2 separate regions of the Homo sapiens genome follow, and region 1 is linked to region 2. Evidence: fine-mapped expression QTL. A gene starts in region 2. The other region holds a variant in brackets. All regions are shown on one strand. Distances are from middle to middle.

Region 1 (4,393 bases), 100 kb before region 2:
CATTTCATCAGTAGGTATAAGACTATAAAGATTTTCTATTCTTCTTGTATCTATTTTGATAAGTTGCATTTTTCAATAATTTTGTCAATTTCCTCTAAGTTGTCAATATTATTGGCATAAAGTTGTAAATAATATTTTATGTTTTTAATTTCTGTATAATGTTTTGTGATGTCCTCTTTTACATTCATGATATTGATCATTCATATTTATCTTCTTTTTTCCTGGTCTTTTTTTTTCTTTTTTTGAGACAGGGTACCATTCTGTCACCCAGGCTGGAGTGCAGTTGCGCAATCTCAGCTCACTGCAATCTCCACCGCTCAGGGTCAAATGATTCTCCCACCTCAACCTCCTGGGTAGCTGCAACTACAGGAGTGCACCGCCACACCGAACTAATTTTTGTATTTTTTGTAGAGACAGGGTTTTGCCATGCTAGAATTATAGACGTGAGCCATCGCGTTTGACCTCTTTTTTCTTTTTTAGCCTTTTCTAAGTATTAACTTTTTGTCTGTTGATTTTCTCTGTCAGCTATCTGCTTTGTATTTTATTGATTTCTGCTCTATTATACTTTTCCTTTGACTTACATTGGACTTAAGTTACTATTTTTCCAGCTTCTGGAGATGGAAACTGAAATCACTGATTTTTTCAAATTCTCTTTTTTTACGTAGGCATTTAAAGCTATACATTTCCCTCAGATTAATGCTTTAGCTACATCACACAGGTCTCTCTCTCTCTCTCTCTCTCTCTCTTTCTCTCTCTCTATCTCTCTCTCTTCCCTCTTATCTCCCCCACACTCTACCCAAACATTAGAGAGACTTCTTTCAGGTGGTGGGCTACCTCACCCAGGGACTCTTCACACTTCATAAGTTTGTGTAGTCCTGAATGAGGAATAAACGTTTGAATTACTTGTGGCCTCTGGTTCTTATGTAGCATGTTTGACATCCAACAGCTTTAAAGGGGTGGGAACAGCAGACCCAGCAGCAAAGTCAGGCCATAATAATCTGATTTTACTATAGCCATATTAGCTTTCTTTTTATTAGAATTTACATATCTTACATATCTTTTTCCATCCTTTTACTTTTAATCTGTTTCCTTATAATTAAGGTGGGTTTTTTGTGCATTTTGTAAACAACATATAGTTGATTCTAATTTTTGTAATTCAGTCTACTTTTAAAATTTTAAATGGCTATTTCAATCTATAATATACTGATCTAGATGGTTGTAAGTCCATCATTTTTCTGTTATTTTTCTATTTGTTCTTTTAATTCATTTTTTCTGACTTATTTAAAAGTGTGTCCTTAAATATTTAATTATTTGATTAAATACATTGAATAATCCAGTATTTTGTTATTCCCTTTTACCTTCTCTATTTTATCTTATCTATTAGCATTTCAGTTTTGCCCTACTTTATTATTCTTTTGAAATTATAATACAGAACCTTGATTTATTACCATCTACCTTTAATTATCATTTTCTACAACTTCTCAGCAATAAAATATCCACACCAGTTTTACTTCATTTATCCTCTCACTTTGTCTTATTATTGTAATATATTTTACTTCTGCATTTGCATAAGCCTTACAAGACATTGTTATTGTTTTAAATCTCAATATTCTTTTATATTTGCCAATAATTTACCCTTTCAAGCCCTCTTCACTTCTTTCATCTGGGATCATTTTCCAGCAAACCAAATAACTTCCTTTAAAATTTCTTGTAGTGCTGGTCTACTGGTAAAACAAAATATTGCTCAATTTTTGTTTGTATGAATATGTGTTTCTCTTTTAGTTTTTAGGGAATTTTAATAATTTATAGAATTCCATGTCAGTAG[GTT/G]TTTTTTTTTTTTTTTTGTCCTTTACTTTTAAGATGCCATTCCACTGTCTCCTGGCTTCCATCATTTTTGTTATAAAGTCAGCAGTCCTATTGTTGCTTCTTTGTAGGCAATGTATCTTTATCACCCAGGTGCTTTCAAATTTTCTTTTTTTTTTTTTCTTTTTTGGACATGGAATCATACTCTGTCACCCAAGCTGGGCCAAGTAGCTGGGATTACAGGTGCCCACGACCATGCCTGGCTAATTTCTGTATTTTTAGTAGAGACAGGGTTTCACCATGTTGGCCAGGCTGGTCTCGAACTCCTGACCTCAAGTGATCTGCCTGCCTTGACCTCCCAAAGTCCTTTATCTTTAGAGTTCAGATGTCTGCTTATGATGTATAGGTGTAACTTTCTTTACATTTATCCTACTTGTGGGTTCACCAAACATCTAGAATCTATAGTTAATATATTTATCAGTTTTGAACATTTTCACCCATCAAATATTACTTCTGTCCAATTCTCTCTCCTCTCTGTTTGAAGCTCTAGTGATACATAAGTTGGATATTTTGACAGTGCCCCACACATATCTTGCATTTTGATCACTCTTTTCTATTCCTTTTTTTTTCTCTGTGCTTTGGTTTGATTTCCTATTGACTGATATGTGTACTTTACTACAAATTTATTTAAGAATTTCCTGGCTGGGTGTGGTGGCTCATGTCTGTAACCCCAGCACTTTGGGAGGCTGAGGCAGGTGGATTACGAGGTCAGGAGATCGAGACCATCCTGGCTAACATGGTGAAACCCTGTCTCTACTAAAAATACAAAAAAAATTAGCCAGGCGTGGTGGCGGGTGCCTGTAGTCCCAGCTACTCGGAAGGCTGAGGCAGGAGAATGGCATGAACCCCAGAGGCAGAGCTTGCAGTGAGCCAAGATTGCACCACTGCACTCCAGCCAGGGTGACAGAGCGAGACTCCATCTCAAAAAAAAAAAAAAAAAAAAGAATTTCCTAATTTCACTTTTCCAGCTCTAGATGTTCATTCTATTCTTTTTTTCCATTATTTGTCAGGTTTATTGAAGTATAACTTACATCCAAAATCCATCTGACAGAGTACAATTCTGTGACTTTTAACCACACAAGATATAAAACATCTCCCCCCAAAATTTGTTCCTCTTTGTAGTCAACCCTTCCACCTTCCCCCAGCAACTACTGTTTTCTGTTCCATTTCGTTTTTTATAAATTATAATTCTCTATTTTTAACGTATTTTAAAATTTTTCCATTTTAACATATTTTTATAGTTATTTTAAAGCCCTTGTCTGTGCATCTTGATTGTCTGTGGGTCTACTTATACAATCCGCTTTTCTTTCTGCTTTTTGGCCACATTTCCTAGACATTGTATGTATTTTCTGGGGATTGTATATAAAAGAACGTTAGAAATTAAGGTGGATGGTATTTTCCACCAGAGAGGGTTCATGTTTCCTTTGTTAGGCAGAGAGTATTGAGCTGTATGAGAGCTGGGATGTAGCTTTAGTTAGATTCAGTTTGCCTCTGGTTTTAAATGTCTTGAGAATGACACCTGCTCCCTCTAGCAGGACGTTGTCTCCTAAGCTTCATGAAACTATGGGTGCTTTCACTCTGCCTTTTCAGCCCAGACTCATCCAACATCCCCAGGGGAAAAAAGACCAGAGATCTCAGCTTACCTAGAAATGGAATTTCTCTGGAATTTTGTTCAGATAGTTCTCTTATATTTGTAATTGCTGTTAATTCCAAAAACTACACTATAACTTTTAGGGAGATTAAATTTAAGCATAGTGTTTGCATCTTTATGATTTATATGTCTTTCATGGCATATTAGGGCTTCTTGTATAATCAAAATGTATCTTCCATCTATAACATCTGAATGGGAGGTGGTATGCAATAGTAGGAAGTTAGCCCTTCACAGTCAGAATACCGACTTTTAATCTGAAGTCCCAAGAAGACGGGTCAAGGAAAATATTGTGAGCTTTAATTTCCTGGAGTATATGTGAGAATAAGTGGTGTCTAAGGTCCTCATTTTACCTTTTATTTTTATTTATTTGTTTTGAGACAGAGTCTTGCTCTGTCGCCCAGGCTGGAGTGCAGTGGTACAATCTTGGCTCACTGCAACTTCTGCCTCCCAAGTTCAAGCAATTCTCCTGCCTCAGTCTCCCCAGTAGCTGGGATTACAGGCATATGCCACCACACCCAATTGTATTGTAAAAATACAATAATTTTTGTATTTTTAGTAGAGATGGGGTTTCACCATGTTGGACAGGCTGATCTCGAACCCCTGACCTCAAGTGACCCACCCGCCTTAGCCTCCCGAAGTGCTGGGATTACAGGTGTGAGCTACCGTGCCTGGCCATTTTACCTTTTAAAACATTAGGATATATTTTAGACATTCATAGAACAAAGACTTCAGGCATAAATGAGATCAACATCTGAGCATCTGCTACCCAGTGCAATAGAATATAACAATACTTTTGAAGTACTCCTCCCTCCTTGATATCATCCCTTTATCCTTTTCTAAGAAGTAGCCATTATCCTGAATTTTGAGTTTATCATTTCC
Region 2 (4,393 bases):
ACAACTTAATGGTAAGGAGACATTTCATAAAAACTTAACCAGTCGATCCAAAATAATTCCTAATTTTACGTAAGAGGCAAACGGTGAAAGACCGAACATTAACTTTGCCAATCACCTGAAAGGAGCAGCGTGGTAGAACTACCCAGGACCGCCTCAGCACTCAGGGGCAATAGTGAACTACTGAAGCAACAGCTCCACCTACTGATCCACCCTATACTTCCTTAAATATGTTGGCACCCCAAGTCTACAGTGATCGCGCTCTCTCCCCCTCCTCCACTCGCTGTGACCCAACCCAAATCTAGTTGAGTCACTAGCTCTTAATACTCATCCCCGTGCTCTTTATTCCAATTTCTTCTTCCTCCAGAAGGTTCTGCACAGCTCCCAAGCGTGAATTAAACTGAAAGGTGTCAAACACCGCAGTTCCAGAGTTGAGTCTGGAGGTGGAAGACAACCAAACCACTCCACCTGGAGCTGCGGGCCGGCGTGGCTCAGCGGTCCGCTCCCGGGAAGGAGGCCCCGGGCGCTTCACAATAGCCTTTCCATGTTGCCCCACTCGGTCGCTTCTCCCCACTCAACAACCCACACTCGTCTCCGAACCGAAACCCTGAAGCCCCCCGGGTCTTGCCTCCGCTGGCCCTTCAGCCCGCCAACAGCCCGAGCCTCGCCTCCGCCCCCTCCGGGAGCCGAGGGAACTGAGAAGCAGAGAAATCTCCCTCCGCCCGTCTTCGCCCTGAATCTCTCCTCGCCTTTGCGGCTCTCCCCCTCTACATGGGCCCGGACCCTTCTACCCCACCGGCCGGGCCCTGCCCGGCTGCCCTTCCTCACCCTTTCATCTTCCCCGCCTGCTGAGGCCGTCGTTACCACCGATATCAACGCCGTCGTAGTCGCCGCCCTTAGGTCTCCGCACCCTTAGCTCGGGCCACTCAACCCCGCAAGCCGGCCTCCTAGCCTGGGCAGGGAGCTGTGCGAGCAACGAAGGCCGCGAGAGTCGAGTGAGGGCTTGAGTCTGGTGGGGGCGGGAGTGTCTCCCGCCGCCGCGCTTGTGCCGCCGCTTCTCCACACGTGCACTCGGGTCTCTCGGCTCCCTCCCGCCGCTGCCGCCAGCCAGACCCGCTGCCGCGCTGTGACCTTTCACCCCGCCCCTCGCGCGCCGGCGCGCCGCCGCCTCACGCGCAGCCGCACTGCTCGCCTCCGCGCACCCTGCCCCCTCCACTCCGGAACCTCCATCTTTCTCCTGGACTGGGCCTTCTGGGGTCATGCTCCTCCCTCCCACCCGCTTACGACACTGCTTGTGGGGCTGGCTCGGTAGGCCCTGGCGGTAAAATCCAGATTTTTCCACCCCTCCCTCTCTTGTCCCATATCCGCAAGATAGTTTTTCTCAGCCCCGTTCTTCCCAGTTTGTGGTCTCCAGAGTGACCTTCAAACGCTGTTGCCTCCTAGTAGGGTTTTATAAAGTTAGTTCTTCTAAATGTAAAGAAATCTGTGGAAAGCTCAAGTTTAAGTTAGGTGTTTTAAAACAAACGTAGTTAACAATCGGCCAGATAGATTGGCTACCCTCCAGCACGCCTCAAGTTTTAAGATCACGTGATTGGCCCAAACCTCAGAGCCTGGAATTTTACCGGCGGACTCCAGAGGGACGGAACGCCACCGCCATTTCCTGTCCCTCGATTGTGGCGTGAACGTCACTTCCTTAGCAATGCGCTTTAACTCTTGCTGTCCACATTTTCCACATTGTACTTTATAACATACTCTTTGTGAAAATTTATCTTTTATTTCTTTAATCCAAGAAAATTAATATTCAAGGGATCCGTAAAAATTCAGGCCCCCCGAGATGTAGAGCGCTGGGATGGAGGAGGCAGGGCGGAGCTCGACGTCATGTGACTGGTTGGGCCCGCCCCCCCCCCCCCCCCCAACCTGTGCAGCTGAGGACTTCCCCTCCGTGGTGACAGCCTCTGGGTCCTCGGTCGGTACAGTCTCTGCACCTCGCGCCCCAGCAGGTGAGCGGCGACCGGTAACTGGCGAGTGGTGGGGATAGAGGGGGTGGAAGGAGGCAGAGGAAGGAGAGAAGGGAGAGTGTGAACGGCGACTTTTCTGCCTGAGGCTTCCTCCCCGCTGTCACCCTGCACCGGCAAGGAGCTCATTTCTCCTTAACCCCCGCTCCCCCAAGTGTGGTCGTTCCCGCTACTTGGGGATTCAGATGTCCACCTTTCCCAGGGTTGGAAGTGAGTGCGGCCATTATGGTTCCCTACTCAGAGCCTTTGGGGCTTCGGGTAGCAGATTGTTTCAGCCATTTCACAGGGTCTGCAGTAGACATTAGGTCCCATTCCTTAAAGCCCATTCTTTGGCAAAGGTCCTCACTGTCCTTACCCTCAGCTCAGGGCTGAGGAGCGGGGAGGTAGCAAAAACCCTGGAGGCAGAGGCGTCTCCGGTGAGACAGGCTTGGGAGGGACTGTCACTGATACGGCCCTCACTGCAGAGTCACTGTGAAGCTTCCCTCCGAATGTGCTTTCTCAGTGATTCTAAGGATTTTATCTGACATACCTGCAGGGAAGGTTCCGTAGATGTTCACGTGCTTCGGATGGGACTAGAAAAGTAAAAGAAGGGCTTTTACTTTTTCTTCTCTGCAGAGAGGACAGTTGAAGGAATACTGTCTTCAAAACAGGAGGTGTTAGTAATGCGACAGTCTCGATTGAATGAGGAGGCGTTGAAAGATGGTATTGTGGTGTTGTGGTGTGCAGGAGGCCCAGGCTGGTTTAGGGAAGAGTGAGTAGGGTTCCCTGAAACCGAAATAAGAAACTGATTGGGTTGGAAATAGTTAAACCAAATTGATTTGGCCATATGCTTAAAGGTAGAATCAAGTCGAGATGTTGCTGTCTGCACATGTTTTCTGCCGTCAATCCTTCCCTTTTTGTCATTTTCCCCTAAAATACTACTGAATTGGCACTCCCAATCTATTCCTTGATCGGCTTTGTGGTAAATTTAGGTTAAGTAGCATTTGTATCCCTCTTTAGCTTTCCCCATTTGTAAAACTCCCGGTGCCCTCTTCAGATTTTGATGAATAGTATTTTGTGAAAATACAGAAATTGTTGTCCAATTGAAAATACAGGTGTTGTCCAACCCAAGTACTCCCATTCCGTCCATAATGTATTATTACCAATGTTTTGATCCCAAACAATGTGCTTTAGGGAAGAATGTTTTTCAGTTTGTGGTTAAACTCTTTTATTTATACTGCAAACTCAGAAAATTCCATGCTGCTTTTCAATTGAAGGTCTTACGAATATTACAAATTTGATTTTTAAAATTTAAATTACACCTTTCTTAATATGAAAAATTATATGCTCAGTTAAATCTTGTAGTTTTCTAACTAAGGTAATTAAAGAAGACTGCTGGAAAATGAGGAAGATGGAATCATCTTTGGTGGATGTGACTGATTTATTTTTGTTTTTCTGTGTCTTCCAAATTCTATACAATAAACGGTCTTATTTTGTTAAGGAGAATAAAAAGTTAAAATTCTACAATAGCAGCAGTTTAACAAAGTATTTTTATAGTAAGTGCAAAATACATAACCTAGCTTATTGATGCTCCTTAGTAGAAAACATAACCTCGGAGATGTTGCTTTCCCCAAGTAATGAAGATTACTACTATCTCTTGTGGATTTACCATTTTAGCATTTCGTACTTACGACCCATACTGGACAATAGACTAATGTATTGATATATTTATGTCATCATGCCTGCTGTAGATATATATATGTAGTTTTATCCATTAATTTTCTCCATAATAAGGTTCCTTGATCTCTAGAGGAGAGGGGAAGAAAAAAAGGAAGTGTTACTTCAGTGACCAGGTGACATTGCACCACGTAAGGAGAATTCCTTATGTGGTCTGGAAGTCCTAACTAGTCCTGTCTGGCTGAGACCAAAATGTGAAAGAGAAAACCAGCTAGAAGCATTGACTACTAGAGGGGAAAATGTCAGTATGAAAGTGGTTGGATGAGTCTGCAGTTTTACTTCACAATTCCCCCAGTTTTAGGGAACTCGTGAAAGCAATAACTTAGACCACTGATGAAATGTAGATTAGTAGTGGGAATTGGTGATTACATTGCTAGTAAGGTTAAATGTGAAAAAAAGCTTTGACATTATACACAGATCACACACACACACACACACACACACACACACACACACACACACGATTGGAAGCCTGGAAAACATTTCTGAGACTAGCCTTATCAGTTTATGAGTGTTACATGTAGAAATCTTAACATTTATTAGGGAATTGTGCTATAGTCCACTATTAAATAAAGCATAAGGGTTTGGTTTTATTTTAGGGCCCTTGGCACTTCTGGTTTTCTTTTCCTGAGTTCTTGTTTTCAGTGCCTTTATAGATTTTTGCC

Direction of the effects. Positions count from the first base shown, and alleles are read on the strand shown. Sizes are in standard deviations (SD) of each study's normalised expression.
For the expression in macrophages of the gene that starts at base 1,919 in region 2, allele G in region 1 goes with a lower level than allele GTT (moderate effect, 0.55 SD a copy in Nedelec 2016).

The links. PIP is the estimated chance that this variant, and not a neighbour inherited with it, causes the effect. A credible set is the group of variants that fine-mapping cannot tell apart.
Region 1: its variant is the best candidate, but not a certain one, in a credible set for the expression of ATP6V1A in macrophages (Nedelec 2016, PIP 0.64).

What each region holds. Positions count from the first base shown.
Region 1 is chr3:113,643,480-113,647,872 of GRCh38, forward strand. No RefSeq gene overlaps it. Among named protein-coding and RNA genes, the nearest start is that of MIR4446, 51 kb to the left of the region's middle. The variant GTT/G (reference allele first, on the strand shown) is at 1,826.
Region 2 is chr3:113,745,117-113,749,509 of GRCh38, forward strand. It overlaps ATP6V1A (ATPase H+ transporting V1 subunit A), which reads left to right and starts at 1,919. Exons shown (of 15, transcript NM_001690.4): 1 at 1,919-1,997. NAA50 (N-alpha-acetyltransferase 50, NatE catalytic subunit) reads right to left here and starts at 1,133. Exons shown (of 5, transcript NM_025146.4): 1 at 826-1,133. The coding sequence starts at 833. RefSeq lists enhancers at 1-713, 317-466, 714-1,449, 1,450-2,185, 1,507-1,876 and a silencer at 1,037-1,156.